Homo sapiens: one gene and its partners. The protein of the gene in region 1 interacts with the protein of each later gene in a biochemical or structural test. Each region holds a gene or a part of one and is shown in the gene's direction. Other genes may lie near its edges. The genes, in order: PTPN21, BMX, ERBB4 and KIF1C.

Evidence for each region.
Region 2: the proteins of PTPN21 (region 1) and BMX form a complex in vitro, tested with the Homo sapiens proteins (one study listed by BioGRID).
Region 3: of the proteins of PTPN21 (region 1) and ERBB4, one has a biochemical effect on the other in vitro, tested with the Homo sapiens proteins (one study listed by BioGRID).
Region 4: the proteins of PTPN21 (region 1) and KIF1C form a complex in vitro, tested with the Homo sapiens proteins (one study listed by BioGRID).

The regions. Positions count from the first base shown.
Region 1 is NC_000014.9:88,551,511-88,559,612, reverse strand, and holds the start of PTPN21 (tyrosine-protein phosphatase non-receptor type 21), read left to right. Parts: upstream 1-4,917; 5' UTR 4,918-4,962; intron 4,963-8,060; exon of another isoform or gene 8,061-8,102. Other genes in the region: proline-rich protein 2-like, read left to right, coding at 2,823-2,850, 4,553-4,917.
Region 2 is NC_000023.11:15,503,324-15,511,463, forward strand, and holds part of BMX (cytoplasmic tyrosine-protein kinase BMX), read left to right. Parts: intron 1-3,984; exon of another isoform or gene 3,985-4,086; intron 4,087-5,021; 5' UTR 5,022-5,030; coding exon 5,031-5,168; intron 5,169-6,005; coding exon 6,006-6,110; intron 6,111-8,113; coding exon 8,114-8,140. UniProt on the Homo sapiens protein: Non-receptor tyrosine kinase that plays central but diverse modulatory roles in various signaling processes involved in the regulation of actin reorganization, cell migration, cell proliferation and survival, cell adhesion, and apoptosis.
Region 3 is NC_000002.12:211,380,156-211,388,295, reverse strand, and holds part of ERBB4 (receptor tyrosine-protein kinase erbB-4 isoform JM-a/CYT-1 precursor), read left to right. Parts: intron 1-303; coding exon 304-351; intron 352-1,145; coding exon 1,146-1,443; intron 1,444-4,235; coding exon 4,236-4,681; 3' UTR 4,682-8,140. UniProt on the Homo sapiens protein: Tyrosine-protein kinase that plays an essential role as cell surface receptor for neuregulins and EGF family members and regulates development of the heart, the central nervous system and the mammary gland, gene transcription, cell proliferation, differentiation, migration and apoptosis.
Region 4 is NC_000017.11:4,993,577-5,000,949, forward strand, and holds the start of KIF1C (kinesin-like protein KIF1C), read left to right. Parts: upstream 1-4,373; 5' UTR 4,374-4,580; intron 4,581-5,436; exon of another isoform or gene 5,437-5,470; intron 5,471-6,273; 5' UTR 6,274-6,394; intron 6,395-6,643; 5' UTR 6,644-6,670; coding exon 6,671-6,776; intron 6,777-7,195; coding exon 7,196-7,272; intron 7,273-7,373. Other genes in the region: protein INCA1, read right to left, coding at 818-861. UniProt on the Homo sapiens protein: Motor required for the retrograde transport of Golgi vesicles to the endoplasmic reticulum. Has a microtubule plus end-directed motility.

The DNA.
Region 1 (8,102 bases):
GCTCACTGCAACCTCCATCTCCTGGGTTCAAAGGATTCTTCTGCCTCAGCCTCCCGAGTGGCTGGGACTACAGGCGCGTGCCACCACACCCAGCTAATTTTTGTATTTTTAGTAAAGACAGGGTTTCACCACGTTGGCCAGGATGGCCTTGCTCTCTTGACCTCATGATCCGCCTACCTCGACCTCCCAAAGTGCTGGGTGTGAGCCACCGTGCCAGGCCCAAAGCTTTGCTTTTCTTTGAGTACTCAGTCAACCTTTTTTTGTCAGCCTTTTGAGTCTGCTTTTCCAGACTCAAGCAGAAGCTGATCACAGTGATTAACGAGACATTACCAGTCCATTCAGACTATAAAGTATAACCATGTATAAATTTCCTCACCTACTACAATTACATATTCATCTGTTGTTCACATGGTGAGTCTTTGAGGACAGGGGTATGCATCTATTTACCTTTCTCCTTGCAGCACCTGGCTTCTAAATATATGTGGGCTGAATGGACAAGTGTTTTCCAATAGTGATTATCACATGGCATAGACATACTTGGATCAAAAGCCCTAAGTGTTGGGAATTACAGTCACAGCAGTCACTTGCTACTGAGGCAGACATGCTTCTCCATTTCAACAAACACACTGCCAAGATAATCATTTCTCTGATGTCCAGGGGAATCTATCCATAAAATGGTTGCTCTTTTGCAACTGAAAAGGTGTTGCATGTGACACAGTATTGAGTGTGGTAGGCAGAACTTAAGGTGCAGATTCAGAGACCGAAGACTTCACATTTCTATTTTTTTTTTTTTTTTTTTTTGAGACGGAGTCTGGCGCTTGTCCCCCAGGCTGGAGTGCAATGGCGCGATCTCGGCACACTGCAACCTCCATCTCCCGGGTTCAAGCGATTCTCCTGCCTCAGCCTCCCAAGTAGCTGGGACTACAGGCGCCCTCCACCACACCCGGCTAAATTTTGTATTTTTAGTAGAGACAGGGTTTCATCACGTTGGCCAGGCTGGTCTCGAACTCCTGACCTCGTGATCCGCCCGCCTCGGCCTCCCAAAGTGCTGGGATTACAGGCGTGAGCCACCGCGCCTGGCCACACATTTCTAGTTCTAGCCCTCACTGTCCCCTTCCTCAGGGATCATCTTTTTTTTTTTTTTTTGAGACAGCGTCTCACTCTATCACCCACGCTGGAGTGCAGTGGTGCGATCTCGGCTCACTGCAATCTCCGCCTACTGGGTTCAAGCGATTCTCCTGCCTCAGCCTCCTGAGTAGCTGGGACTACAGGCGTGTGCCACCTGCCCGGCTAATTTTTTTTTTGAGACGGAGTCTCGCTCTGTCGCCCAGGCTGGAGTGCAGTTATGCGATCTCGGCTCACTGCAAGCTCCGCCTCCCGGGTTCACGCCATTCTCTTGCCTCAGCCTCCCAAGTAGCTGGGACTACAGGTGCCCACCACCATGCCTGGCTAATTTTTTATATTTTTAGTAGAGATGGGGTTTCACCGTGTTAGCCAGCATGGTCTCAATCTCCTGACCTTGTGATCTGCCCACCTTGACCTCTCAAAGTGCTGGAATTACAGGCGTGAGTCACCGTGCCGGGCGTAATTTTTGTATTTTTTTAGTAGAGACGGGGTTTCACCATATTGGCCAGGCTGGTTCCGAACTCCTGACCTCGTGATCCACCCGCCTCGGCCTCCCAAAGTGCTGGGATTACAGGCGTGAGCCACCGCGCCCAGACAGGAATCATTATCTTTGCGTGGCAGGGCATTCATTCAATTTGGATTTTTGCAGATGATGATAATTTATACGGTGGGTATTCACCATGCTATCAAAACAGATTAACTTTTGAACTTCTAAGAAAACACTAGTCAGTGCACCCACCAAACCACAATTTCCTTTCCTTTTTTTTTTTTTTTTTTGAGACAGAGTCTTGCTCTGTCACACAGTCTGGAGTGCAGTGGCGTGATCTTGGCTCGCCACAACCTGTGCCTCCTGGGCTCAAGCGATTCTCATGCCTCAACCTCCCCAGTAGCTGGGACTACAGGCATGCTCTACCACGCCCAGCTAATTTTTGTATTTTTAGTAGAGACGGGGTTTCTTCATGTTGGCTAGGCTGATCTCGAAATCCTGACCTCAGCTGATCTGCCCTCCTAGGCTTCCCAAAGTGCTGGAATTACAGGCATAAGCTACTGCACCCAGCCTTCTTTCATCTTTTTGTCTTTCATCATTTTATGTGCTGGGCTTTCTTTTTACATTTTATTTATTTTAGTAAGAAATAACTTCCAGTGTAAAAGTATGTGTAAGTATGCCACCTTCTGGATAACAAGAGGGGGTAAAGATACTTATATGTAGTTTCTTGTAACTCTGCAGAACATCTTTGTAAGGATACAGAGGAATGAGGGAACACTGGTTACCTCCCAGGAGAAGAGCTGGGTGTCTAGCAGGCAGGGTGAGAAGGGGACTTTTTACTTACACCCTTTTGTATCTTTGGGGGTGGCACCATATAAATTATCTCACTTCCTTAGATATGCAACACAAGCTAATAATTTTATGTCTAATATTTTGAAGGTGTTATTCAAGTGCCTTCCCATGAATGTTCCTGCCAAATTAACATAGCTGAGGGAAAATAGGGCTTAGGTACTTGGTCAGTAAATGACATCTGTGGACTGTGAGGGAGGAAGTTCAACTCAGTTGTCTAACATCTCTTGGGTTTTATGGTCATTTTCTATTTTTAAAATTCTTTTATTTTCTTCCTGATTCAATTAACAAGTTTTTATTTAGTGCCTACTCTTTGCCCAGTACTGTCCTAGGAATCCTAGGAGATATAAAAGAAGCCGTCATGAAACAACTTTTACAGTTCTTGCCAAGTGTGGAGATCACTGTGGAATGGTGTGGCTAGAAAGTCATCCTGGAAGCAGAGTCTTACTTGCAGAGAAGCAGAAGGCTTAGACAAGTGGAAAGAGGGCAGGAGGGGCTGCTGGCCAGGGGCAAAGCTTGACAGGGGCAGAAAGCGATATAGGTGGTCAGAGAGGCCCGTTTGGAAAGTCCCTATAGGTCAGGCAGAAGAACTTAACCTTGGGAGTCCATTAAGAGTGATAAGAGAAGGAAGCCTGGTATTAGCAAGGAAATAAGAGAGAACTGAGAAACCAGATGCCAGGAGACCACCCTTGTTGCAATAATCCGGATGTAAAATGATGAGGGTTTGGATTTAGAATGTTCCAGGGGGAACAGAAAGGAAACAAAGAATTCATGAGACATTTCAAAGGAGGAAATACCAGGTCTTGATGACAGGCTGGAGATGATAATGGGAGAAGTCACACATGATTCCAGTTTTTCTACCTTGGGAAGCCAGCAAAGTGACTTCTTTTTAGATCTCTTTTCTTTGCTCACACACAAATTGACCCCCTCATAGAGTTCAGTTGAAATATCAATTACAAACAGAATTGATCTATTTTTTTTCCCTTAGAAACACAGGTAATCTTATTTGCCTTTAGCTAAACGACCCAAGATGCACCTTGCTGGGCTTTGCTCTTGGATAGCACTCATACCTCTATGACAATGCTCCCCACTTTGGCCTTGTACTGCGTGTGTGGTGTGCAGGTGCGTTTATCACCCACTAAACCAAAAGTCCGTGTTGTGCAGGGACCACGTCTCATGCAGAGTTAAGTATTCAAAAGTTTTTGTTAATTGTTTAAGAAAATGAGATTTACATGAAACAATACTTTAAAAAGCTTTCCAGAAACAACAGCATTAAAACAAAATCACTGAAATTAAAATTTACATAAATTAAAAGGTTCTGTGTTCCACATGCCAAGAAAAGATCTTACACTATTGTAATAGTGGTAGGGTCACACAGTTTTATTCCTCAGCTTAAGTGCTGCAATACAGTAATAATGCAGTACAAGAATACTGTATAATAAACCTTAAACGAAACACTTCATATATACTTTACACAAGTTATTGGATATTGCTTAGTATTTATTTCCCCCACCCCTGCTGTGCAAAGATATTAATATCCCTCTTTTATAGGAGAGGAAACAGGTAAAGAGAAGTTAAGAAACTTGCACAAGGTCATCCAGCTAGTAAATGTTGGAGCTGGGATTTGACAACTTTGTCAAGTCTCCATCCTTAACAGTTCTGCTCTATATTGCATAAGCAGACAGCTCCCTTTTGGGGACTGACAGGTTATTTGAGGCATATGAACCATTTTTGGTGGGGGGGCTTTCCCACCCAGTACTGGAAGTGTCTAGTTATATGGGGCATAACCTTAGGAGCAAGCAGGAAAAGAAGAAATGTATTCCAATAGTGTTCAGAAATATACCAGAGTAAACGAATAACCATCAATAACAGCATTTTACAGCCTACCTAATAACACAGGAATAAAACCCTTTATCTGGAACCTAAATAATACCCCCTCCACTCATTTTATTAAAAGCCTTGCTTTATTTGGAAACTCTTAAAATAAGTGGTCATACGATTAAAAAAAGCAGCGGCGCGCCCCCTCCCCGGCGGCCGGGCGCAGCTGTCCGCGCCTCCCCCGCGCGGCTGCCCGCATTCCAACTCTCTGAGGTCACGGGCCGCCGCCGCCTCCCCGGATCCGCCCGCCCGGCTCAGGGGGAGGGACGCCTGGGCCCGGCCGCCCCGCTGCTCCGGCCGCGCGTCCCGCGTCGGTCCGACGGTCTGTCCGTCCTCCTGCCACCCCCCGCCCCCACGGGGCTTCTTTGTGCGGCGCTCCTCGCCGGCCGGTCCCACCTCCAGGCCTCGCCCCTCGCCGTCGCCACCGCCGGACTCTGCCCAGGGGAATGGTCTGCGAGCCGGGTTTTTGGAGACAGGAAGTGAGGCGTGCGAGCCCCATGAGCGCGCCGCGGCCCGGGCTGGCGTGCGGGTGCGGCTGCGGCGGCCGCGCGGCGGGGCCCCGGGAGGCGGGTCGCTGAGCGGGGCGCGCGGCCCCGAGGATGCGGGAGCGGGAGCGGGAGCAGGTGAGGGCGCGGTCCCCGGCCGGCGGGAGGGGCGGGCGGCTGGCCCGAGCGGTGGGGTGTGTCCACTCGCCCGGACCCCGGAGCGCGCCCGCGGCCCCGGAATCCCGGAGAATGGGGCGCGGCGGCCAGACCCGTAGCGGGAGCGTAACAAAGAGAAAAGTCTTGTTTTTCAGGTTCGCTCTCATATACTTGAGTAATTTCTAAAAGGAGTCTTGAACTTCTATTCCGAACGCCCTGGCCGATTGTTGCGGGTTAATTCTGGATCAGGGTTTTAAATGTGTTAGGCATATTTGTGCCTCTCAGAATATATAAACGTGAAATTCGCCAGATAACTTTGGCGAGAAGGGGCGCAGGGAAGGACTGTTTGGTAACGCCTGGGTTTGTTTTTGGAGTAGAGTATTTACTCTGGAAACAAGAATTCTTGGATCTGCAAATTCCGACTTGTGATTTCTGCAAATCCTGATTAGATTGGCCGCTCTTGGCATGCTCGTCCTATTTTCTTTTTTGCTGAGAAAGCCTTATACTAATAGCGTATGCTCACAAACACATTCAGAACATTCGTGTGCTCCAAGTGACAACTGCTGTATGCCTAATAGTTGCTGACAGTTTATTTATTTTTTTAAGTTTGGGACACGACAGTAATTTTACTCTGAATATAGTCCGTTTCGTTTCTAGGGCATTTTATTCTGGAGCATCTACGCACAGATGTTTTCTCCGTGAGAAACATGGGTTTAATGCTATAGCTATAGATATTACTCTAAAAATGTCACATACTCTCTCCTTTTAGTGCTTATTTTATTTTAAAGCAACTTTGGCAAAATTACATGTGGTAAGGACCTTAATAGGAAAGGGGAAACGCTGTAAGATTGAGAGGTAAAGTGTATTTGAGGAACTTTTGGAAAGGGTTGTAGAGAGGGAAAATTAAAATGAATTCACAAATAGTTCAGACTGCCTTTTGTAAACTTGTACTGAAGCAGAATCTAGTATGTATCTGTTTACTTACCACAAAACGGAAAGATTTTGTAGAGAAAAAATTATATCCTAGTTTTCCTTTAATAGCTATTTATAAATTATGTTTACTTTAGTAAATTATAATTCCAGACCCAATCACTTTCATATTATTGCATATTATTTTATACCTGAAACAGACCTCCCCAAAGAACTCTTAAATTTCTACTCATCTTGGTTTTATTATCTTCAGACATTCATAATTGTATTACACCATTTGGCAACAAATACTGCATATTACTGAAAATTAAGATGTATAAATCATTGATAAATTTGTAAATTATTAAACAAAATCATTGTTTTAACATAGTGGGTTTTATATAAATAAGCAAAAAGCAAGCCATTCTTATGGATAGATCTTGGGGGGATGCACCATGTACACACACACTGCAACTTTTTCAATTTCATCTACCAAAATAAGAGATAATTTTGACTTTTCCTTTATCCCTGATGCAGTAATACATTTCAAGTCTGAGGGACAATTGAAAGTTTTACTGAGTTTGCTTAATCAGAGCTTAAGTTAATAATTAAGTTATACAGTGTAGTATCTATTGCTTTCAAGGCATAGTTCTATGTAGTGAAAAGACTACCATATTTGAATGGCACCTAATACAAATATTTATCTTTCCTCTACACATATGCAATATCTTGTCTGTTCATCTACACTACTTAATCCGCCCGGTTTCCAGTTACCATAATTTTTATGTAAAATTGAAACCCACCATCTGATCTCATGAAAGGGTGTTTAGTATGCATATTTATAATCCTTAAATATTTACTCTTGGTTTATCAATTTTCTAGTTAAAAGCTTATTATTTAAAGTTGTCATTTGCTAATTTTTTTCCATCTTGCTTTACTTATTTAGTTTATACCCCTGAAACAGCAAAGAGCATTGAAAACTACTGGAAGTGGAAACCATATCTTTTAATACTTATTTTCTGTTTCCCTCCATAGTATGGTGCTTTTACCTACAGAAGGCACTCAGCAAATGCGGTTAATTAACACAGTGCTTTAGGTAGTTGCAGCGTTGTTTTTTTCTTCTGGCCTTCCCCTATCCCTTGTTTTTAATATTTTGATTTTCCTGGCTATGGGAAATAACCAGAGCTCAAAACAAACAAAAAAACTAGCCAGATAAAACCGTGGTTGGGTCCTTATTAGAGATACAGCTCTGTATGTAATTATAGCATGGTTGTAATCTCTTTAAAGACAGCGACGGTTTAGGGATTCGTCTTAGATTTCTCACGATGCTCATTACGCTGTCTTGTTCCCAGAGACGCAATACACATTTGTGGAATGGAATTTCAAAATGTTAAGTTTGGCAAAGCCGAGGGTAGTAGCGGAACCCTTTTCTCCAGGTCTGCCATTCCCTAACCCTAAGTGCCCCATCACCTCTGGGCCTGAGACGCAGTCAGGAGAGCAGGACCCAGGAGAGGACTGGGACTGTGGAATTTGGGATCGATTCCCAGCTCAGCCCGTCCTAGCGTGAAACTGCGAAAGCCGCTTCTCTTCCTGAAGCCTGGGTTCTGTCTGCCAGATGAGAGGGTCGGGAATAGATCTTGCCTCTCCGCGCGGTCCCGGGCCGGAACTCAGCGTAGCCAGCTATGGCTGGGTCTCGCTAAGCGATTCATCCCCAACAGGCAATCTCTGCGCAGAAGGAAGGTAGGGAACCGTCTCAGGACCCTGGAAATGTCCGGGATTTTGTAGACTCGTTTAGGGGGAAAAAACTAATCCAGCTGATATAAAAATCCCCAGCTAGTGCTCGCCCCAGAAACCATCAACAGGTCTGGTTAAAAACTGTTAGAGCCCGGCTTGGTGGCGCGCACCTGTGGTCCCAGCTACTCGGGAGGTTGAGGCGGGAGGATCGCTTGAGCCCAGGTGTTCGAGGCTGCGGTGAGCTACGATGGCGCCACTGCACTCCAGCCTGGGTGGCATAGCGAGACTTCGCTCTATAAAACACGTTGTAAGGAGCGTATTTTGAGGTCCTGTGGCTCCAAAGCGGGCATCCTATGGGGCCCGCCCAACCTCTCCACCGCCAGTAGGGCACGCGCTGGTCCCTTTAAATGTTCCCTTCGGGAGCCGAGGGACCGGTCCTTTTAGAGCGCGTCCGTCCAGAAACGCGGCTGCAGAAAGAG
Region 2 (8,140 bases), on another chromosome or scaffold:
AAGATTATAGGTAACATCTTTCTGATATTTCCAATAAAATGTCTCTTGCACTGGTCTGTTAAGACTCAGATTTATGGGTAGTTTCACCAAACTATGTCCCTTAGCAAAGCTGTAGTATGTTTGGCTGAACACACAGATATCTCCTACTCTGTTTACTGCCATCATGGAGTGGATGGTGTACAGGTATGACACCTGAAGCTGGCTCCCAGGGCCATGCCTCTTAGGTCACTGGTTAACAGTACTGGCTAAGTCACTTAGGCTGCTGGGGCTCAGTGTTACATCTGTAAAATGACTTCTAGGTTTCTTATAAGATTTGACATCCTATGACTGCCTTCCTGTATTTAGGTTAGAGCAGTCTCTGGTTTAGGAGGGTCACACAGCAGGCATGTCCTTCTCTAGCATTAGTAGCGTGGTCACGAATATGGGATGTGGAGTTAGACTGCCGGGATTCAAATCTAGCTCCACCCACTAGCAGTGTGACCTGGGCAATTTATTTATCTATTGCAGCTCCATAAGCTATAAGCAGGGAATGATGTTACAACTTACTCTATAGGGTGAATGTGTCACAACCTATCCCATGGGCTGGGAGTATCACAAAATATCCCATAGGGTGGGGGTGTTCTGGCCTACCCCATAAGGTGGAGGTGTCATGAGCTACCCCATAGAGCAGTTGTGACCAGTAAACTCTAAACAGCCTGGCACATAGTGAGCCCTCCTTAAGCATTGGCTAGGATCATTATCATAAAATCACTCTCATCCTTCAAAGTCTAATTTCAATGTGCTCCCTTCTAAAATACCTTACTTGGCTACCTTAAGGAAAAAACAACTTTTCCTTCCTTGGACCTTTCATAGCAAAGTGAATAGACTCTACTCTAGCACCTACATTTTTTTCCCCATCTTTTCTTTTTTAAAACATAGTTGGTACCCACAATGTGCCAAATACTTTCACCATAAGGTTTCTCATTTAAGTCCCGTAAAGTAAGAGAGTTGTTACCTATCTCAATTTACAGATCAGAAAACTGAAGGTTAGTGCAGGGAAGGGGCTTGGCCAGGGTGACACAGTTTACAAATGACAGTTCTGTAACCTCCTCCATGCCTTCCGAGTCTGCCACCCCACAGCAATCTTTCATATTAATTAGTTATGCAGCCCATCTCTCAAACTTGTTCATTGTCACTCAGGGCCACGGACAGCTGATCTTTATTTCTGGAACCAGTCACTCAATGTTGGACACACTGTAGGCTCAAAATCAAGCATGCCAAATAGAACTGCCGACTTGAACTTCTTACTCTCATGACATCATTTCCTTATAAATCCTAAAAAACTATAGTGATTATAAGTCATGTTAATTCAACACACACCTTTTATGTATGTAAGAGGTTAACGAATGGCTGCTGGCTTCCTTATAGGAAATACTATATTGATTTCTGCCAGGTTTTTGTGTCTCCTCTGTGCCTTAATCACTTTCTAGTTTCATCTGTTTATGGAAATAGGCAGCCTGGGCTATTTGGTAAGCAAATTGATAGGTCTATTCTATGTGGGTGGTAATATGAGAGTCCACCCAGATCCCACTAGCTCTTCTATGGAAATAGATTTCTTGTTAATACTGACTGGGTTTAGGATCTCATTTTACTATAAAAGGTTTTTTGTTTCACCTTCCCAACTGAATTTTCCCTAAATAAGCATAAGAAGAGCAGGGTTTGCTAGTTGTTGGACAGGCATTTGACTTAACAGTAAGCCCTGTTTATTTATTGTCACAATACGAGGGGGGAAGATATTGCATTTCTAAAAATTAATCATCAGCAACTATCCTTCTATATCAAGAGAGACCACAGAAATGTTTTCAAATTAGAATTTAGGCCATGTAGAGGAGAAAGGAGAAGTATAAGGAAGGGACAGAAGTAAATAGAAGGAGAAAGGCAAGCCCAAGCCTGAGCAGAAACCACATGGTTTATCTTAGAAGAAACTGATCTGGAAATGAAAAAAGCTTGAGTCATCAAGGTGGGGTCCTTCAAGACTGTTAGGAAGCCTCAGTAGCCCAGCTTAGGGAGTGGAGCTTTGAAGGACTGTTCCTCTTGGATGGGTACCTCAAAAACGTGTGGCTTCAGGTGTTTGTTACACGAGAACAACATATTACGGACTCAAGTGCACAGTATGTGAACCCATCTTTGAGAAAATAAGCATATGTACATAAATATTTGAAAAGAAAAACATCTAGAGATGTGCTGTGTTTTTCTTTTCCCTGTCTGTATCTCTTGGCTTTATAGAATAAACATATATTGCATATGAATCTTAAAATGAAAGCAAAAAATGTATAAAGGGCAGGATTTTGAAATGAACAATTATGTTGAAATTTCACAAGTTATATTTCATCAGATGCAACAACGCTTGTAAACCCTTGGAGGTTTACTGGAGAAGGTGCTTGAGGGCTCAATACCTTCCTTTTTACTCAATGTTCTTCCTTTCAATACACAGAGGCAACTTTGTGAATTTGTCAGTGGTCTCTGTGACTCATCTTATTAATTTTTTATATAAAATTCCAAAAATTCTCACCTTTAGTGTGATGCACATAAAAGTTTTATTTTTCTTTTCTTCTTCTTTCTTTATTATTATTAATTTTTTTTGGAAGACAGGGTCTCACTCTATCGCCCAGGCTGGAGTGCAGTGGCGTGATCCTCCTGCCTCAGCCTCCCTAGTAGCTGGGACTACAGGTGCATGCCACCATGTCTGCTAATTTGTCAAAAAAATTTTCTAGAGACAGGATCTCACTATGTTTCCCAGGCTGGTCTCAAACTTCTGACCTCAAGCGATTCTCCCTCCTCAGCCTCCTAATGTGCAATATGCTGGGGTTACAGGCATGAGACACTGTGCCCTGCCTAGGTGTGAAAGTTCTATAGACAGAAAAATATGTATACCAGCACATAGTACTGGGAAAGACTGAATAGCACCTTGGACATTGGGATTTTTACATTTTTAATACAGTGTTGTTAATGTCACAAATCAATTCAGCATCTAAAAAAATTAAAAAGTAAATTTTCTATTCAACTAATCAGATCTATTTAATTAGCACTCTGCTTTGAGGAATGATGTTTCAGCTGTGGATATAAAAAATTGACAAGAGTTTTCACAGTTTTCTCCTTCTGCTTCATTAGTAAAATACGGAAATATAAAAGGCAAAAGTACCCTACAACCATGTCCAATGTGATATTGCCTCCCCAAAGGAGGCTTTCACTCAAAAAAAGTAGACCCTCATTGTTTCCATAAGTCTCCGAGCAAATTCTCTTCCGGCCACAGACTTTGGATGTAGAAAATAAGCTTATCTGGGCAGGTGGATATGCAGAGTTTGCAATGGAAGCAAAGATAAAAGGAAGGCATGCTACTCTTACCTCCATAGGCTCTACTCTACCCTGATCTCTGCCCTGTCTTTGATCACTGGGCAAAGAAACCAGTGACCATGGCAAATAGTACCCATTGTACTCAGAAGAAACCCATTATACTTTTGTGAAAGAATTATCCTTTTTAAATAGCTAAAACAATATCCCAGGGAAAAAGTAACCAAGACTTTATTATATTGAATGGATAAGATTTCCACTACTTCTGTCTAAAAATCAAATAATGCCCTTGGAGGACATTTTAGGAATTAATAAATAATCTTTTGTTCTACATAGTAAATAATAAAAGCTGGTTTTCTTAATTCCACTTTGAGAGTTGTGTGGTCTATGTTAGGAGGAAAGCTGGCTGGAGCCAACCATGGTTAATTCAATGCCAGGCTGTATTTCTTAGTCTCCCTTTCATTTCACTCTTCTGCCATAGTGGGTCCATCATACTCCCAGGCCAGTGAGAAGTGCCCTCTAGTGATTGGATGGGTTCGCTTGGCGCCCGCCTCCATGCAGACAGAGCAATGCCTGTGTGGGTGCTTCCTGATCAAGACTGATGAGTGGGATGCAAATATCTTCTTTTTAATGCATGACCCTGGCATAGCCAGAGGGAATATGAGTGATGGTGCCTCAAAGCAGTAACTTTTTGCTTAGAGCTTGAGAGTCAAAGTTAAGGACCCACATGTATACTTCGGCTCTAGCGAGTCTAAGGTGAGTAAAGCCTTCAGATTATCAATAAAGAAAGATTTTAACTATTGGGCATGTGAATTCAAATAACGATGCAATTTCACAAAGCAAAGAAGAACATAAGAAAGTTTGTTTCTCTGGCCTACTGCTCAACATTGCTACTTTTCATGATCAGACCTGATATTAGACTGAGGGTTGAAGTAACTGTCTTAGTAGAATTAGAAAATTAATGCATTTATTTTTCAGAAATACCTTAAGTTTTAATGTTTTACATGATTTTGGGATAAAAAGGAAGAGTCTTTTTACTTTGTAAATGTACTCATTTTTTCAGTTCTTTTAAATCTCTTTTGATAGCATCTGTTAGTGCACCCTCATACATTTTCCTCATTTTATCTTATCTTAGGCATTTACTTTGATTTTAAATTCTCATAGATATTGAAAATTATACCTGTGTAATTTATGTTAAAGATCTGGCCATGATCAGGGGCTGCAGGTGTTATTTACAATAATGTCAGTGTCTCATAGTGGTTTGGGTAATTTGGTCAAATTACAGGCCGTTACTTCATAAATTGTGAGCTGTCTGGAGTTAAATTTTCTGAAGTTTTATTATATCCAATTCAATTCAACCAACACATATAGAATGTTTAAAAAGTAAGGAGCATTTTGATAAGGTGGTCTGGAGAATGGGGCAAAGATGATGAATTTATTATCCACAGTGGGAGGAGTCAAAAGTATAAAGTGCTTTTTAAAAATCAACATATTTATAAAACCCAAAGCAAAGGCAGCAGAAAAACTGTAGCTATTGTGTAATTTATTCTATAATCCTACATCAGTCTCATTTATTAAAATCAGCATTTATATTATCCCTTAATAGGAAATCGTTGAGGAAAAGATATGAAGGTTAAAGAGAACTTACCTAGATGCTGCAAATACTCATTTTAATTATTTATTTTGTTTAGGATGATAATATGGATACAAAATCTATTCTAGAAGAACTTCTTCTCAAAAGATCACAGCAAAAGAAGAAAATGTCACCAAATAATTACAAAGAACGGCTTTTTGTTTTGACCAAAACAAACCTTTCCTACTATGAATATGACAAAATGGTGAGACATCATGTGTTCCATTATTTTTATACTATTTATTATTTTTCCTAAGTCTCCACAAAGTACTTGATCATAATGAAAGAATATCAGGTTTCTTAACTTACACTGTGAAGATCCTCTTCTATCCACTTATCACATGACCTTTTCTTAATGAAAGTATAATGAATTCAAGATAAAGGATTTTAAAACATTAGTTAACTTTACTAAGGCAAATTATAACTTTAGAACAGTGGTTCTCAACTGAGGGCATTTTTGCTCCCCAGGTGACATTGGGAAAAGACTGGAGATATTTTGGGTTGTTCCAACTGGGGGATAGGAACAGTAAGTGTTAAAGACATCTAGTGAGTAGAGGCCAAGAATGCAGCTAACCATCCTGCAGTGCACAGGACAGTCCTCACAACAAAGAATTACCCAGCCTTAAATGGCAATAGTGCCTTAAAACAATGCTAGAAATAAGACTATTCCTGTACAGTTGAGAATTCTACTATAGTAAAAACACTGAAATACTGTCATAAGACTGAGCCAAAATGAAGATGCTTTGCAGAAGTTAAATCTTGATTTTCCTGAGTATATTAACCACATGGTAGGTGATTTGAAACACATTTCAAGATAATCAAACAAGATTATTAACCACTGGAATATATGTGTTTGTGTCCAGACTCAAGGAATAGATTATGTTGTCATTGGATTTTGACTATTACGGGGTAATAGGAAGTGACTCTCCATTGCCCACCCCCCACCCCAATCTCCCTCTCAGGCATAACTTGGGCTTTATGCCTTTCCTTGTGCACCATGATGTATTGCAGGAAGTATCTTACATTTTGTTTTTTAATTCAGAAAAGGGGCAGCAGAAAAGGATCCATTGAAATTAAGAAAATCAGATGTGTGGAGAAAGTAAATCTCGAGGAGCAGACGCCTGTAGAGAGACAGTACCCATTTCAGGTAAAGGGAAGAACGACATTGCATTGGGTGGATAGTTCTTCCTTCAATTTTTCTATCGTGAACTCAATATATCTAGGAAAAATAATGATATTTCAAAATAATCTAAACAAGGCTTGGAATATTCCCACATGGGAGTTGGGCATTTTGCTAAAATTCTGTCCACCAATCTGCCTTCCCTGGAGGGAAGGGAAGGGAAGCAAGACAGGAGCGTAAGTCGCAGTGACCTGACCTGCCTCAGGTCTGATCATCTCTTTTAACAAACATTGCTGAGTATCTCCGATGTGGTACACAGTAGTAGGCATACTATGGGGAACAAAACACTGCCCCTACCCCAAGGCATTTACAGGGAAGTGGCAAAATAGACTAATACACAGACCATTACAAAGCAGTGAGGGTGAGAGTTAAGGTGGAGGTCAGCAGAATGCATCCATGGAGTCCCAGGATGTGGAAGTTTCATTCCTCACTCCAAGAGGCTAGAGAGATATTCTATTGGAGGTGACACTCAAGTTGAGAAGGACAAGTAAAATTTAACCCAGCAAATATGAGAAGGACAGTGGTACAAAGGAAGCAGCAGGTGTCAAGGCACTGATGAGTGAAACAGTATGACACATTTAGAGAGCACTAAGTAGTCCCTATGAATAAAGAAGCCCATGTGACAGTGAAAGAGATAGCCTGGAGAGGTGACCATGCTAAGGAGTTTTCATTTTACCCTGAAGTATTTTAAACAATGGTATGGTATGTAGTGTATGCTGGTAGTACCTTTTGGAAGTGGCCTAATCTAAGTCATGCCCTACTTTTCTTATAGCATAAAATCTTACATTTCTGATCCAAAGGTAGATGGATTGTCTTTCAGATGGCCTGACTACCCAGTGCTAGTATTAGGAACCTGTGGCCAAAAATGAAATACAATAATCCAGTTGATTAACAACCCATACTTCCCATTTGGAAAAAATATTACCAGGCCAGGCACAGTGGTTCATGACTGTAATCCCAGCACTTTGGGAGGCCAAGGAGGGAGGATCACTTAAGGCTGGGAGTTCAAGACTAGCCTGGGCAACATAGCGAGACCTCATCTCTACATAAACATTGTTTTCATTAAAAAAATTACCCAATTGGGGGAAACCAGGGGAGGGCATGCTCATGGAAGATGCTGCAAACTCACCTCATAGAGGCATAGTGCTCAAAAGATCACAGGCTTTGGAGCCCCCAGAGAGTTCCTAGTTCCACCACTTATACTTGTGCAACTGTAAACACATACTCAACTTCTATTTCTCACAGAGTTGAAATAAGATTAAAATACTGAAGTAGCTAGGAAAGAGCCCAGCAACTAGTAAGTGTTTAACAAATGCTGTGTATATTTACCAACAAGAGTTGAATAAACTAGAGAAGGATCTGGAGAAGATATTGTAATCTTCAAACGTTTAAACATTTGTCTTAAGAAACAGAAAAGTATATATTCTGGAGATTCCTGGGGTGCCACATGATGAAATAGATGAAAGTAACAGGGAAACATATTTTTACTCAATGTAAGTATGAACTGTATAATGATCAGAATATATGGATATTGGCAGAGATGACATAGCAGAGTAAAGAACATTCCATCCCTGAAGGTATTTTTAAAGATAGAGCAGTTAAACATTTTCCAGTGGGCTGTAAGGAAATCATGCACTGGGTAGGCAAATGGACCAGAACAATACTAAGACACGTGTAATGTCTAACATATTAATGTCCATAGTCCAGGGTGTCCCTGATGAGAACTCAGTGTTCACCACTACTATGAGGTACATCATCGCTGTAATTTTCCAAAGTATAGGAGTGTCTGGGATAAAACAAATTGATAACTGGAGGATTTTTTAAGAAAATTTTTTTCATCTAATTCCAGAGCTGATGTATACTGTATAAGCAAACTCAAGGTTTCTTTTGGATGACAAAAAATTTGCAGGTGCACCAAAGTGAAGTATGGTGCAATTATATATAAACACACCAAATATTTTCCTTTCCAGATTGTCTATAAAGATGGGCTTCTCTAT
Region 3 (8,140 bases), on another chromosome or scaffold:
TAGGGTTAATCAGAAGAATGTTTATTATTTACTTTTCTAATCCATTGAAAAATTTTGCTTTTTCTGTACAATTTTCCTTTTCAGGGATTGAATTAAAATATTTATTTTCCTCAAAACATATAAATAAGCTTGCTTATGGTCAGAATGCATACAATTGTGCTGCTTAGGAAGCTTCACTGTTGTGCACTTTTTCCCCTTTGGTTCATACGACCCATGTGGCTTTTCTTTTTCGTTTCTTTTTTTAATTTTTTCATTCATATTGCCTCTTATTATATCCATCATTCCATTTTTCTTTCCTATTAGAGTGAAATTGGACACAGCCCTCCTCCTGCCTACACCCCCATGTCAGGAGTAAGTATTTCACAATCAACCTTCATCTTTTAGGATTTTCGGTCTTTGCTTACCATGTTTCCTCTCTCGTCTCTGCATAATTTCCTCATTTTGCCTTTGCCAACAGTGAGTTAAGAATTTGGTGTACATCGTGTAGCTGCCTTTGTAGATGTGTTTTTATCTCAGCTGATAATCCGAAATTGAGATATCATGCATCAACAGTAGCTTTCAATTTTTATCTGAAGGATTTACCTGGGCACATAAATTATGCTTCTGGATGTGGAGGTGATCTTTACTTCCCTGATTATTGGTCATGTACTAAAAAGTCAGAATTATAGTGATGATCCTCTAGTTAGGTACTAGAGCCTCAAATTCATAATAACCACAGAATTTTCGAAGGGAATAAAGACATAGGATTATTCAAAATATATCCATGTACTTCTATTCTTAATGACAACTGTCTATAATTAATGACACTTGCATTTATCATAAAAATTCACTTTGAAATTTGTATTAAATATAGGCACTTGTGGGAAAAGGGCATCAAATACATTTTATTAGAATATGTTTCAGTTGGTTAATAAAACTAGAATGTGTATTTCAAAATTATTTTCTGATGATTTATCTTTTAAGAAAAGTGGAAATTTTAGGTGTTTATAGTTTGTAACTCCATTAGCCACTAGGGGAAAAAAAACCAGTAAATACTATGACTATTCTCTGAAAGACTGGCTTTGATATCCTTGTGGCTATTAACATTCATTTTTAAACTATTTCTAACAACGCCTTCTCTCCACATATGTTTCTCTTATTAACAGAACCAGTTTGTATACCGAGATGGAGGTTTTGCTGCTGAACAAGGAGTGTCTGTGCCCTACAGAGCCCCAACTAGCACAATTCCAGAAGCTCCTGTGGCACAGGGTGCTACTGCTGAGATTTTTGATGACTCCTGCTGTAATGGCACCCTACGCAAGCCAGTGGCACCCCATGTCCAAGAGGACAGTAGCACCCAGAGGTACAGTGCTGACCCCACCGTGTTTGCCCCAGAACGGAGCCCACGAGGAGAGCTGGATGAGGAAGGTTACATGACTCCTATGCGAGACAAACCCAAACAAGGTATGAACTGATTATTCAGAAACGATCGCCATTCGAAGTTCACTTCCATCAAGATAAACAAAGTACAGAATAGAAATTGCCAGATAGCTGACCAGCACAACATTTGTGATCCAGTAAAGGCCTAGGCTACTGCTACTTGTAGTATGGTCCCTGAATCAGCAGCATCCACATTATTTATTATTATTTATATAAATCAGAATCTCAGGCAGGCCCCGTCTGAATAGGAATCTGGATTTTAACAAGATCCCCAGGCTATCTGCATACAGCAATCAGTCTTGAGAAGCACTATTCTAAACATATTTTGTTGAAATATTTGAATGAAGTAGCATACTACAAAGTGTCAGGACCATAGCTTTATTGGACTTAATTGCGGAGATCAGAAAGACTGGTATTGTTGGCAAAAGTGCCTGATGCTTTTGATGGCACTAATAAAAGATTTGTTTGACTCATTTAAATGATGACATTTAAACAACCTAGTTTATTATAGGAAAATATTATGTTCTTATATGACGTTTTTCAAAAATTAAAGGTTTGACCCTGTATATACTTACAAGCATACCACCAAGATTTGAAAATAATAATCTGTGGTTTTACAAAGCATAACAATAATTTTGTAAAGTTAGTAGTAGAAATGTTAAGCACCCAAATCAAATAATGCTTCAATTTTGCAACAAAACAGCCTTTCTTCTTCTATGCTAACAGTATCACAACAGAGAAGATAGATGATTGTTATTAAAAAATGATGATCATGTCTCTCGCAGTCTTTAGTGTCAACAGTAAACTACATTTTAAGACTCTGAGAAGGGCCTGGTATATGGTTATGTTCTCTCCTTTAAAGTAAAATTTAGAGATCTCTAATTGTAAATAACCTTTTAAAATATATCTGTCTAGATAAAATTTTTACATATCTAAAACTTCTATACATATAAAAATGTAATGAAGAGTTTGGATGCTCATAGTAGCCTAGTAATGACACAAATGTAGACGTTGTGAAGACTTGGCAGATTCACCCCAAAGAAGAATCTTTTCTGGGGAGATTTTCACTCCAACCGTAAAGTTATTGGACAGCTATATAAGTTTGCATGAGGACAATATATAAGTAGATTGCATTGAGGAAAGGTAAGGTGAAGAGAAAAGCAAGTCACCCTATAGAGTCACACTGTATTCTCAGATTTTATCTCTGAACACTAAGCTCCGTTTCTATAAAAGGTTGCTATAGTCTAACCTCGTACTCAGAGAGTACAGAATTTTAGTGTAGACATTCCTATTCTTTCAATTAAGAAGTTTAAGGAATCTGGTAAGAGAGACCAAATTCTGCATTCCTTATAAATGTTTTCATACACTTGTCAAATTAAAACTTGTTACTAAGCATAAAGTTCACCCAACTCCTGCAGGGGCAATAATAAAAAACAGTGCAGTAGAATAAGAAGATTATGCAAGAGGAGTTAGAAGACCTGAATTCTATCCCAACACTAATTGTATCCTGCACACATCATTTAATCTCATTTTTCTGTCTACAAAGCTGGAAAAATAAGTCTTGTACTTCTTTTTCACAGAATTGGGAGGATGAAATGATAGTGTCTTGTAAAGGCCTATATATGATAGTGGGATATTCATTACTGCCCTTTAAGTTGAATAAATGATGCTAAATACTTACCTATTCTGTATATATATATTTGGAGAAAAATAATCCTCACTTAATAGGATTTTTCTCTCTACTTATTGGGCTAAGGATAAAAGACAGAAAGTTTGTTTCAGAATGGCCTCTCAACAAAGAATTGTGCCCTCTTCATGCCTTGAATTCAAAATAGGAATAGCTTAGGGCTTTGTGTATATAGTAAAAGAGAGGACTGTCAGAGGACTTACAATACATGCGTGTTTATGTCTATGTGCAGTCTATATTATAGACATAGATGTGGAATTAAGCTTCAGGAGAATGGTGATAATTATTAGCACCTTTTAGGCCAATACCTATACTAGATGGATTTATTAGATTGATCCGTACAAAATAGGCACTAATTGACTGGTTTCAATATACAAAATTTATTTTATTTTATATAATTCAAGCTGATAGTTTGCTACTTTGTGATTATGATTGGTCAATGGAAATATTATAATTATACTTTACTATTAAGTAGAAGTATATGTAATGTCAAGCAGGTCAACTAGAGGCATGTTAGCTATCTGTTAGATTTGCTTTTTTAGTTGAATTTTTTTCCTTTGATGCTTTCTTTTCCATGTGTAAAACCTTTTTCAGAAGCATCTCCAATTAAATCCTTGTTACCAGTATAGGCAATCATAGCAAACCATAGAGACTAAAAAACATGATTTCTTCACTCCATCTATTCATCTTGGCATGGAACTCAGCTATAGATTCTTGTTTTTTCAATATCCTTTATAGAAGTTAAGTTGTCTGTATATTTAAAGACTATTTAATCCTAATAGGTAGTCTTATTTCCTAATATAAATAACTTTTAGAAAACAAAAACATTGAAACAACCAGCCCCATATGCAGAAGAGACAAATGCAATTAGAAAGAAAGAAAAATTTAGGAGATAGAAATTCTGATTCTGGCCTCGTTGGCTTCTTGTTTTATTATAAACATTTTTGACCCACTTACTCTTTTTTTCATAAGACAATGGTGATCCACAAATACTTGTTGTGAGAAATCATGAAAACAAATCTGTGGGTTTTTTTGTTCTAGACAAAGAAGCTAACCATTATGTATAACCTTGGTCTGATTAATATTTTCCAGAAACTAGAGGTTAGCTGATATTTTTTTATTCCTTTAGAATACCTGAATCCAGTGGAGGAGAACCCTTTTGTTTCTCGGAGAAAAAATGGAGACCTTCAAGCATTGGATAATCCCGAATATCACAATGCATCCAATGGTCCACCCAAGGCCGAGGATGAGTATGTGAATGAGCCACTGTACCTCAACACCTTTGCCAACACCTTGGGAAAAGCTGAGTACCTGAAGAACAACATACTGTCAATGCCAGAGAAGGCCAAGAAAGCGTTTGACAACCCTGACTACTGGAACCACAGCCTGCCACCTCGGAGCACCCTTCAGCACCCAGACTACCTGCAGGAGTACAGCACAAAATATTTTTATAAACAGAATGGGCGGATCCGGCCTATTGTGGCAGAGAATCCTGAATACCTCTCTGAGTTCTCCCTGAAGCCAGGCACTGTGCTGCCGCCTCCACCTTACAGACACCGGAATACTGTGGTGTAAGCTCAGTTGTGGTTTTTTAGGTGGAGAGACACACCTGCTCCAATTTCCCCACCCCCCTCTCTTTCTCTGGTGGTCTTCCTTCTACCCCAAGGCCAGTAGTTTTGACACTTCCCAGTGGAAGATACAGAGATGCAATGATAGTTATGTGCTTACCTAACTTGAACATTAGAGGGAAAGACTGAAAGAGAAAGATAGGAGGAACCACAATGTTTCTTCATTTCTCTGCATGGGTTGGTCAGGAGAATGAAACAGCTAGAGAAGGACCAGAAAATGTAAGGCAATGCTGCCTACTATCAAACTAGCTGTCACTTTTTTTCTTTTTCTTTTTCTTTCTTTGTTTCTTTCTTCCTCTTCTTTTTTTTTTTTTTTTTTAAAGCAGATGGTTGAAACACCCATGCTATCTGTTCCTATCTGCAGGAACTGATGTGTGCATATTTAGCATCCCTGGAAATCATAATAAAGTTTCCATTAGAACAAAAGAATAACATTTTCTATAACATATGATGGTGTCTGAAATTGAGAATCCAGTTTCTTTCCCCAGCAGTTTCTGTCCTAGCAAGTAAGAATGGCCAACTCAACTTTCATAATTTAAAAATCTCCATTAAAGTTATAACTAGTAATTATGTTTTCAACACTTTTTGGTTTTTTTCATTTTGTTTTGCTCTGACCGATTCCTTTATATTTGCTCCCCTATTTTTGGCTTTAATTTCTAATTGCAAAGATGTTTACATCAAAGCTTCTTCACAGAATTTAAGCAAGAAATATTTTAATATAGTGAAATGGCCACTACTTTAAGTATACAATCTTTAAAATAAGAAAGGGAGGCTAATATTTTTCATGCTATCAAATTATCTTCACCCTCATCCTTTACATTTTTCAACATTTTTTTTTCTCCATAAATGACACTACTTGATAGGCCGTTGGTTGTCTGAAGAGTAGAAGGGAAACTAAGAGACAGTTCTCTGTGGTTCAGGAAAACTACTGATACTTTCAGGGGTGGCCCAATGAGGGAATCCATTGAACTGGAAGAAACACACTGGATTGGGTATGTCTACCTGGCAGATACTCAGAAATGTAGTTTGCACTTAAGCTGTAATTTTATTTGTTCTTTTTCTGAACTCCATTTTGGATTTTGAATCAAGCAATATGGAAGCAACCAGCAAATTAACTAATTTAAGTACATTTTTAAAAAAAGAGCTAAGATAAAGACTGTGGAAATGCCAAACCAAGCAAATTAGGAACCTTGCAACGGTATCCAGGGACTATGATGAGAGGCCAGCACATTATCTTCATATGTCACCTTTGCTACGCAAGGAAATTTGTTCAGTTCGTATACTTCGTAAGAAGGAATGCGAGTAAGGATTGGCTTGAATTCCATGGAATTTCTAGTATGAGACTATTTATATGAAGTAGAAGGTAACTCTTTGCACATAAATTGGTATAATAAAAAGAAAAACACAAACATTCAAAGCTTAGGGATAGGTCCTTGGGTCAAAAGTTGTAAATAAATGTGAAACATCTTCTCATGCAATTATTTTATTATCCAACACACTAATCTTTTGATACTTTATATAATTCCCTTTCTTCATATACTGCATCCAGTACTAGAACCATCATTATTATGTATCATTTTGAAAGAATACCTGATGAGATGAAGGATGAGAACAAATGACAGAGATGAGTCTCCAAGTAAAGGGGGCCTCACATCAATAATTAGGAAACTTAGATATAAGTCGCCCTTTTCTGAAAATTCTACCCCAAGTCATTTAGATTTTTAAAAAATATTTCTAATGTTAAAATATTGGGACCAAATTAGAATCAATAGTATAAGATTAATTAATTAGAGTAAAAATATCTATTAAGGCAGAGAAAGTTTAGAGAAAAAAATCCAAAGAAATTTGTGTTTCTTCCTATTCTGAACAAGTAAATCCATCCATCCATCCATCCAAACCTCCTTTATCTAACTGTGTCTACTAAAAGCACCATGTTTTGTGGGGAACACTCAGATAAATGGAATATCATCCTCAACTTCAAAATTCTATGATCTAGGAGATTTAATTAAAATGACATTTTAATTTTTCTATGCGTTCCAACAATCAGATTGCATAGTCTCTTTTGTGAATAGCTGTCATATAATCAGTTGTACTGTAAGATATCTCCTTTAAACTCATTTGGGATATAAGTTAAACATCCTTCAAATTGTTGATGTTGACAAACAGGATAATTTCAATAATATTATTCAAACATAAACTGGTCTAGGAGAATATTGCATCACTGACTAATTAGCCTATCTAGAGTCTAACTTCACCATTAAACCAAAAGCAGATGGTGGTCCTTGGCCAAGAATATTGGAGACATTGGAGTTGGTTTTTTTCTAAGCTATAAGAAGTGAGGCGAGCTGAAAAAGTATGGTAGAGCAGGAGAAGGGTTTGTGAGATTCCTTCTAGTGAAGTTCACCCTCAAACTTTTCAGGGGTAAAGACACAGAGTGATTCAGGGGCCACAATCTAATAGCTCAGGGCTCTCCTATCCATTCAGAGAAGTCTCTAGGAAAAGGGATCTCATATCAGTACTTATGAAAAATTGAATATAAGCCTCCCTTTCTAAATAAATCTGCATCGAGTCATCACAGCCCTCTTTTTGGATACTATACCTTGATTTTTTTTTTCTGATTTACAATATGCATATGGTTTCTACTGGGCTATAGAAAGCAGAATCACTCATTTTGGAGAAGGAAAAAATGAATAGTTAAAACAAACTTTTAACTGTTAAGGTAACAGAAATGTATTTAGTGAATGTCTCTTTCCTCCTAAGAACACAAGACTTCTACATGTTGGGTAATACCTAGAGATGCATGTAGGAATAATCCAAAATGACCCAAATGCTTTATAATAGCACCACTTTATAATTCTTTTGAATGATTTCTGTAGTATATAATTGACTTCAGTTGTTTGAGTGTTTTTTGTTTTATTTTTGTCCCCCCTGGGAAAACATATTTCAGCATGTATAAGAGGGAGAAAAAAAGTTTCATTCCTTCCAGAGAATAACTTATTTAGTCCAGTAGGGTAGAATTTTAAAATGTCAGTTAAAGTCTTCAAAGTGCTTGGGGGGATATCAGATTCCAGAGGCCAATTGTAGCAATTGAAATTTGCAGAATCAATTATGTAAATCTGAGACAAATTAGTATTAAAATTACACGGAGTATATTTTTTAAATCACCCAACTTTGTAGATTATACCTATTTTGGGCAGGTATGGAAAAATTTTGCAGTTAAATGATTGCCTAAAGAAAGTGGTAAACAGGTGAGGAAAGATGGCCTCTGATCTAGGATAGATCCAGAACCACAAAGCATCTGCACCACAAAAGGTGTTAGACTACCAAGCAGCTCCTGGTTTTCTGCATAGTATTAGTAGCACAGCTTAGGATGAGAATCCTTTCTCCAGTAACATTCTTAAAATAG
Region 4 (7,373 bases), on another chromosome or scaffold:
TCCTGCCTCAGCCTCCCGAGTAGCTGGGACTACAGGCGCCCGCCACCACACCCGGCTAATTTTTTTGTATTTTTAGTAGACACGAGTTTCACTTTGTTAGCCAGGATGGTCTTGATCTCCTGACCTCGTGATCCACCCACCTCGGCCTCCCAAAGTGCTGGGATTACAGGTGTGAGCCACCGTGCCTGGCCTTTTTTTTTTTTTTTTTTTTTTGAGATGGAGTCTTGTTCTGTCGCCCAGGCTGGAGTGCAGTGGCACAATCTTGGCTCACTGCAACCCCTGCCTCCTGGGTTCAAGCAATTCTCATGCCTCAGCCTCCCAAGTAGCTGGGATTACAGGCGAGCACCACCATGCCTGGCTAATTTTTGTATTTCTAGTAGAGATGGGGTTTTGTCATGTTGGCCAGGCTGGTCTCGAACTCCTGATCTCAGGTGATCCGCCTGCCTCGGCCTCCCAAAGTGCTGGGATTACAGGAGTGAGCCACCACACCTGGCCCACTGTTTTATGTTTTAAATAGTACCCATCATTAGCTGAAATTGTATTTGTTTGCACATTCTGTGTTCCCCTCTCTAGAATGTAAGCTCTACAAGAGCAGGACCCCTATCCTGCTAGTTGCTGAATCCCCAGTGCCTAATACAGTCCCTGGAACATTGTAGTGTTCAAACTATTTGTTGAATAAATTAATGAATCATCAATCCCCTGAGACCAGGCATTGCATTTCCCGTTCTTTATTTCCTAATCCTCTTAGGGAAGGACCCAGGCATGCAATATCCCCTCCATCCCATCCCCATGCTCCCCACCCAGTGGGAGGACTCACTTGGCAAAGGGGATGAGGTTGACTCCATCATCCTGCACCTGCATGACTGGACGGGGCTGGGTAGTTAGTCTCCTTTTTGGTGCTGGGAGGATAATGGAAAAGAAGTCATTCATTCGGGCTGGATGTGGTGGCTCACGCCTGTAATCCCAGTACTTTTGGAGGCCAAGGCGGGCGGATCATGAGGTCAGGAGTTCAAGACCAGCCTGGCCAATATAGTGAAACCCCATCTCTGCTAAAAATACAAACATTAGTCGGGTGTGGTGGCGCGCGCCTATAGTCCCAGCTACCCAGAAAGCTGAGGCAGAAGAATCGCTTGAACCTGGGAGGCGGAGGTTGCAGTGAGCCGAGATCGCGCCACTGCACTCCAGCCTGGGGGACAGAGCAAGACTCTGTCTCAAAAAAAAAAAAAAAAAAAAAAAAGGCATTCATTCATATAATGTCTGTAGGGATGAGGCCAGTAGCAGATCTAGAGAATGGAAAAAGAATGTATGGATGCTGAAAAAAGAGAGAGCTTAAAAGGTATTTGTAGCGGCTGGGCGCAGTGGCTTATGCCTGTAATCCCAGCCCTTTGGGAGGCCGAGGCAGGCAGATCACCTGAGGTTGGGAGTTCGAGACCAGTCTGACCAACATGGAGAAACCCCGTCTCTACTAAAAATACAAAATTAGCTGGGCATGGTGGCGCATGCCTGTAATCCCAGCTACTCCGGAGGCTGAGGCAGAAGAATCACTTGAACCAGGGAGTAGGAAGTTGCAGTGAGCTGAAATTGCACCACTGCACTCCAGACTGGCAACAGAGCAAGACTCTGTCTCAAAAAAAAAAAAAAGGTATTTGTAGTGCTGGACTGTTAATTGAACATTTAGGTTGAAGATAGTGAGCACAGGAAAAGTGGATGTGGTAAAAAGATAAAGGAGAAAGCAAATCTTCTGAAGCTAAATGTGCAGAATAAGTGAAATTTACAGATGGCAGTTAAGCGACAACTGGCAATATGGGACAATGAAATTGAAAAATGATGACAGTGGAGACTGGGTGGGGTGGAGGCATTTGGGGGTAAGAGAAGTGACAGAATTGAGGGTTCTCAATGAATCAACTATGAGTGGTTAGTGAAAGTTAATTGTGTGGGCCGGGTGCAGTGGCTCACACCTGTAATCCCAGCACTTTGCGGGGCTGGGGCAAGAGAATTGCCTGAGCTCAGGAGTTGGAGACCAGCCTGGGCAATACAGAGAGACGTCATCTCTATTTAAAAAAAAAAAGTTGGCTGGGTGTGGTGGCTCACGCCTGTAATCCCAGCACTTTGGGAGGCTGAGGCGGGTGGATCACCTGAGGTCGGGAGTTCGAGACCAGTCTGACCAACATGGAGAAACCCTGTCTCTACTAAAAAATACAAAAATTAGCCGGGCATGGTGGCACATGCCTGTAATCCCAGCTACTCAGGAGGCTGAGGCAGGAGAATTGCTTGAACCAGGGAGGCAGAGGTTGCGGTGAGTTGAGATCGCGCCATTGCACTCCAGTCTGTGCAACAAGAGTGAAACTCTGTCTCTAACAAAATAAAAAAAGAAATTAAAAAAAGTTAAGTGTGGACATAATGGTCAACTGGTGACAGGGAAGGAGGGGGCAGTTGGGAATGCCTGTGGATAGGGAGGTCAGTTGCATATAGGGACAGCCAAAGATGACCTGAAGGCCAGTTGGGGTGGGGAGAAAGGGCAGTTAAGGCTGGGCACACTGGCTCACGCCTGTAATCCCAGCAATTTGGGAGGCGGAAGTGGGTGGATTGCTCGAGCCCAGGAGTTTGAGACCAGCCTGGGCAACATGGCGAAACCCCCTCTTTACCAAAATACGAAAAAGTTTAGCCAGGTGTGGTGGTGTGCGCTTGTACCCGGAAGGCTGAGGTGGGAGTGTCATCTGAGCCCGGGAGGTCAAGGCTGCAGTGAGGTAAGATCGCACCACTGCACTGCACTCCAGCCTAGGCGTCAGAGTGAGACCCTGTTTCTAAGAAGAAAAAAAAAAAAGCCAGGCGCGGTGGCTCAAGACTGTAATCCCAGCACTTTGGGAGGCTGAGGTGGGCGGATCACTTGAGGTCAGGAGTTCGAGACCAGCCTGGCCAACACAGCGAAACCCAGTCTCTACTAAAAATACAAAAATTAGCCGGGTGTGGTGGCAGGCATCTGTAATCCCAGCTATTCGGGAGGCTGAGGCAGGAGAATCGCTTGAACCCAGGAGGCGGAGGTTGCCGTGAGCCGAGGTCAGCCTGGGCAACAGAGCAAGACTCCGTCTCAAAAAAAAAAAAAAAAAAAAAAAAAGAATACTAGATAAGTTAGGAGAGAGTGCACATAGGCTCCCGAAGGACAGAAGCAGCCAGCTGGAACTGTAGAGGTGAACTAGTATTTATCCAAGGGAACTAGGGATGGGCTGGGAAAGCAGGTGAGGTCAAAAGCGGAGAGAAGTATACCGTGCGGAAGCGGCAGATGGGGCTAGTTGGAGTTGGGCTGAAAGGGCCTAAAGTGGGGTCTAAAGGGGATGTCCTGACTCGGAGGGGGGTCAGCAGAACGCGAGGGAGCAGCGGGAGCTGCGGGGCATTCGGGCCTCAGATAGTTGGGTCCAAGCGGGTGACCTAGATCCAAGGGCAGGATGGAGCTGAAGGAAGCCAGGAAGGATCCTCCACAGTTGACTTCGGGGTAGCCACGGCCTGCGCCTGCGAGGGTGGATGAGGACCCGAGGGTCCGGCTGGGGCTGAGGGGCTGCCTGGAGCCCCGCTGGAGGGAAGCGCCGGGCCGGAGGGCGCGGCCTGCGCCTGAAAGGGCGACGGGGACCCTCGACAGGTGGACCGGGCGTGGCCGGACCTTCCGGGCAGCCCCGCCCGAGGGCACGACTGGGGGCTGCTTCCCTCGAGAGGGGCCCTGAGGTGGTGGGCCCAGGCTGAAGGGCAGGCTGGGGCCTGAGGGACGCCCCGGGTCTGAGAGGGCAGCTCCGGCCTTAGGCGGCACCCGGGCCTGAAGGGGTTGTTTGGGCCTCAGGCGGCGTCCAGGGCGGCCGAACTTGAGGGCCAGGCGGGGACAGAGCGCCCGAGTAGCCGCGCCACGGCCGGCCGCATTTGGCCCCAGCACCTGAAGCAGCTGCGCGGCGAATTCTAGAACTCGGCGGGGCGGGGAGGAGAGAGACGGCGATTCGAGCCGCGGGAGGAGCCGGCGGGCGGTGCTCGTCTGAGGGCGGGGCCTGAGCGGAGCCACCTTCTGGGCGGGCCTCGGCAGGAGGCTCCGCCCCCTGGACGCGCCTCCAACGGCGGCGACGGGAACTGGGCCGGGGCCTGGGTGCCCCCGCGGGTCAGCCCCCGACGTTTCCCTGTTCTTCAGGCGTCTGCAACCCTCCTGGGTTGCGGCGTCTGCTCGCCCTTCTGCGTCCGCAGCTCGGTCCCCACGTTCCCGCTCGCTGGGCCCCACAGGCCAGGAGCGTTGCCCCTTTAACAAGAGTAGCCCGGGTCGCTCCCGGCTCCTTCCCGGGACCGCGCGTACCCGCCCCTCCGCGCGCGCTCGCGCGTCCCCCGCCCCTCGCTCCCGCCCCAGCTCGCGCTGCCCGGGCGGGCGCCGGCCGCTGGCGCCGCTACTGCTGCCGCCCCCGGGGCGCGAGTCCGCCGCCCGCCGCCCGGGCACCCGGCGAGGGGCGGGGGCAGCTCCGAACCGGCCCCAGATCCTTCCCGCTTCCGCCTCACGCTTCCCGGAAAGCTTGTCCCTCTCCGCCGAGCTGCTCCGGGAGCCCCGCCGCGCCGAGGTGAGGGCTGGGGAAGGGGGAGGGAAGGGACGCCCGCGGAGGAATGTGCCGGGTTGGGGGGCGGGGAGCCGGGGTCCGGCGGCGCGATCTAGGCTCAAGAGTCGGGATCATGTGCTGTTTGTTCCGCGGAGGCGCAGAGAGGTGCCAGGCCCGGGCGGCCGCCGGCTGGCTGGACAGGAGGACGGGTCCGCATGGCCGCCCTGAGAGGCCGGGCGGGGACCTGTGTGAGAACCGCCGGGTGGGCAAGGTGCAGGTGGCCCAAGACCCCCTTTCGGGCCGGTCGGCCCCACCCCAGCCGCCCAGTATCCTCCTTGTACCCCACGGCTCCTTCACAGCTGCACCGGCCGACCCCTGTCCCTACCTCTATTCCCTTACCCCGCTGGCCCCCAGCCGTGCCACCCCATCCCTGTCCCATTAGCTGCAGCAACGGCGTCACCATCGCTTGTCCCCACCAGTGTCCTTCCCTCCCCTGGTCAGGGTCTAGGGGGTCAGGGCTGTTCTTCCTGAGCCAGCTTCTGTGATTCCAGCTACTCCCTTCCTGTCCTGGGACAGACCAGCCCCTCACCCTCCCATGCTCTGCCCAGGAAGACTGGTGAGGGGAGGCCCAGCGTGACAGGAGTTTGGGGTCCACTGGGGCCACAGGAGGGGGCTCCGCATCCCTTATCCTTCGTGGTCCTCCTCCCTGTTGTCCGTGGGCGTGGGCTGCTCAGCCTCTCCTCCCAGGGTGTGGGCACCCGATCACCCACATTCCTGGGCTCCAGCCTGGCACCTTCCCCAGGGCAGTGGACGCCATAGCACTAGCCCCAGGTTGGGGCTGGCACCAGCCAGCCGGCTTCCTTTTCTTTCTCCCTTTTAGGGAGGCCCCAGGGACCCTCTACCCTCAAACACAGGTATTTCTGGGCGCCCCAAGGGTGGAGCCCTGAGGGTTGGTCTGATGGCTACAGGATGACCCCACCCTCCCCTGCTCATTGTCCCGGATCCTGAGGAGGAAGTGCTGGGGGCTGGGCAAGGGGCTTAGAGCCCACACAGCTGGCCCTGTGGATCCCAGTCCTGGGCCCTACCTACAGTCCTTGGACTTTGCCCATCTGCACTACTGGCCTGGTGCATGGAGGTTGTGGGCCTCAGGTGGAAACTAGATTCTCCCTTGCCGACACTGTGGGGGAATTTGAGGACAGGTTTTGCATTTGCAGTTTCCTCTCTGGTCTCTCTTCTGGGCTCCCAGTTTGTGCTTTGGCGCCGGAGTTCCCCACCCTGTCTCTTTAACACCGTGTGTTTGCTGTGCTGTGTCTCTTCCTCCTTTCCTCTCCCATTCTTTCCTTCATAGCATGACCTCAGGCTTGCCTTTTGTCTTATTTCTCTAATTTTCTTGGTGTCTGTGACTCTCTGCCCCTCCTCTCTCTCTTCCCACCCCCCTCACGTCTCTGCCCATGTGCCCCTCTCTCTGAATTGCCCTCTGTCCAGCCTCTTTCTCTCTCTGTCCTCTATCTGAACGTTCAGTACATTTGCGAGTGACAAGGAATAAAAATATCACCGTCCCTGCCCTTGGATTCACATTGCATTCAGCCACTCTAGAGGGGCAGCTGTCCGTACTTTTCCTGCTATTCCCCCCGTAACCTTGGCCCTCCAACCTGGGAACCCCAGACGGGTCTCTGGAACCACAGGTGCCTTCTAACAACTCTTCCCCCGCAATCAGGGTATCTCCCAGAGCCCCAGCTGGTGTGGCCAGGCCCCAGGAGTAGGATGGGGCTCCCCCTACGAGGGCCGGTGGCAGCCAGAACTGATACAGCCCCCCTGGTCTGGGGCCAGGACGCCAGGTAACTGGGGGAGACCGCCCAGGTTCCTGCAAGCTGGAATATGGCTGGGGAGAGAGGCAGAAATACCTTTGGGAGTCTCTCAAGACAGTGACATTTGGGAGGAAAGCCAAGGGAATAAGAGCTGGGTCCTTGAGAGGCTGGGTGGCTCTGGGGGAGATGTGAAGAGACTGGTTCCGGGAAGAAGCTGGGAGGCAATGTCTGGGTCCCTGCAGTGGTTCTGACCCCACCACTCCTTTCTCTGTCCTCCAGCTGAGGAGGGCAGGAGTGTCTGGAGCTATGGCTGGTGCCTCGGTGAAAGTGGCAGTGAGGGTTCGGCCCTTTAACGCCCGTGAGACCAGCCAGGATGCCAAGTGTGTGGTCAGCATGCAGGGCAACACCACCTGTGAGTGAGTCCCCGGGGCCTGGCTGGGCACAGGCAGGGAAGGCCGGGCCCACCACACAGGCCAGTCCCGCTGGGCCAAACTAAGAGGAGGGTAATGCTGGGCACAGAGCAGGTGCTAGTCGTAAGGGCGGGGGCTGGGGCAGGCTGGCCTTTCCCGTGTTCCCAGTCCCTGGGAGGGGGAATGTTGGCCTGGAGCCCTCCATTGCCCAATCCAGGGAGGCAGCTCAGTGGGGGCGGGTCCTAGGAAGCCAAAATTAGCTTTGGTGGCTGGAGGGGGTGGGGAATGTTAAAGGGGAGAGAAGAGTCAGGACAGTGGTGAGGAGTGGGATGCTTGGATTCCAGGGGCTGGTTGGGGTATGGGCAGGGACTGGGAATACCTGACCTTGACTTTCCTTCCTTTACCCTCTCCTGCCCCTCAGCCATCATCAATCCTAAACAGAGCAAGGATGCCCCCAAAAGCTTCACCTTTGACTACTCCTACTGGTCACACACTTCGGTGGGTTGTTGGGCTGGGGGAAGAGCAAGGCAGTGAGAGACAGAGGATTTAGGTCCTGGGGAGGGGACATGTTAAGAAATAGGACCCCCAGGGGATTAGTC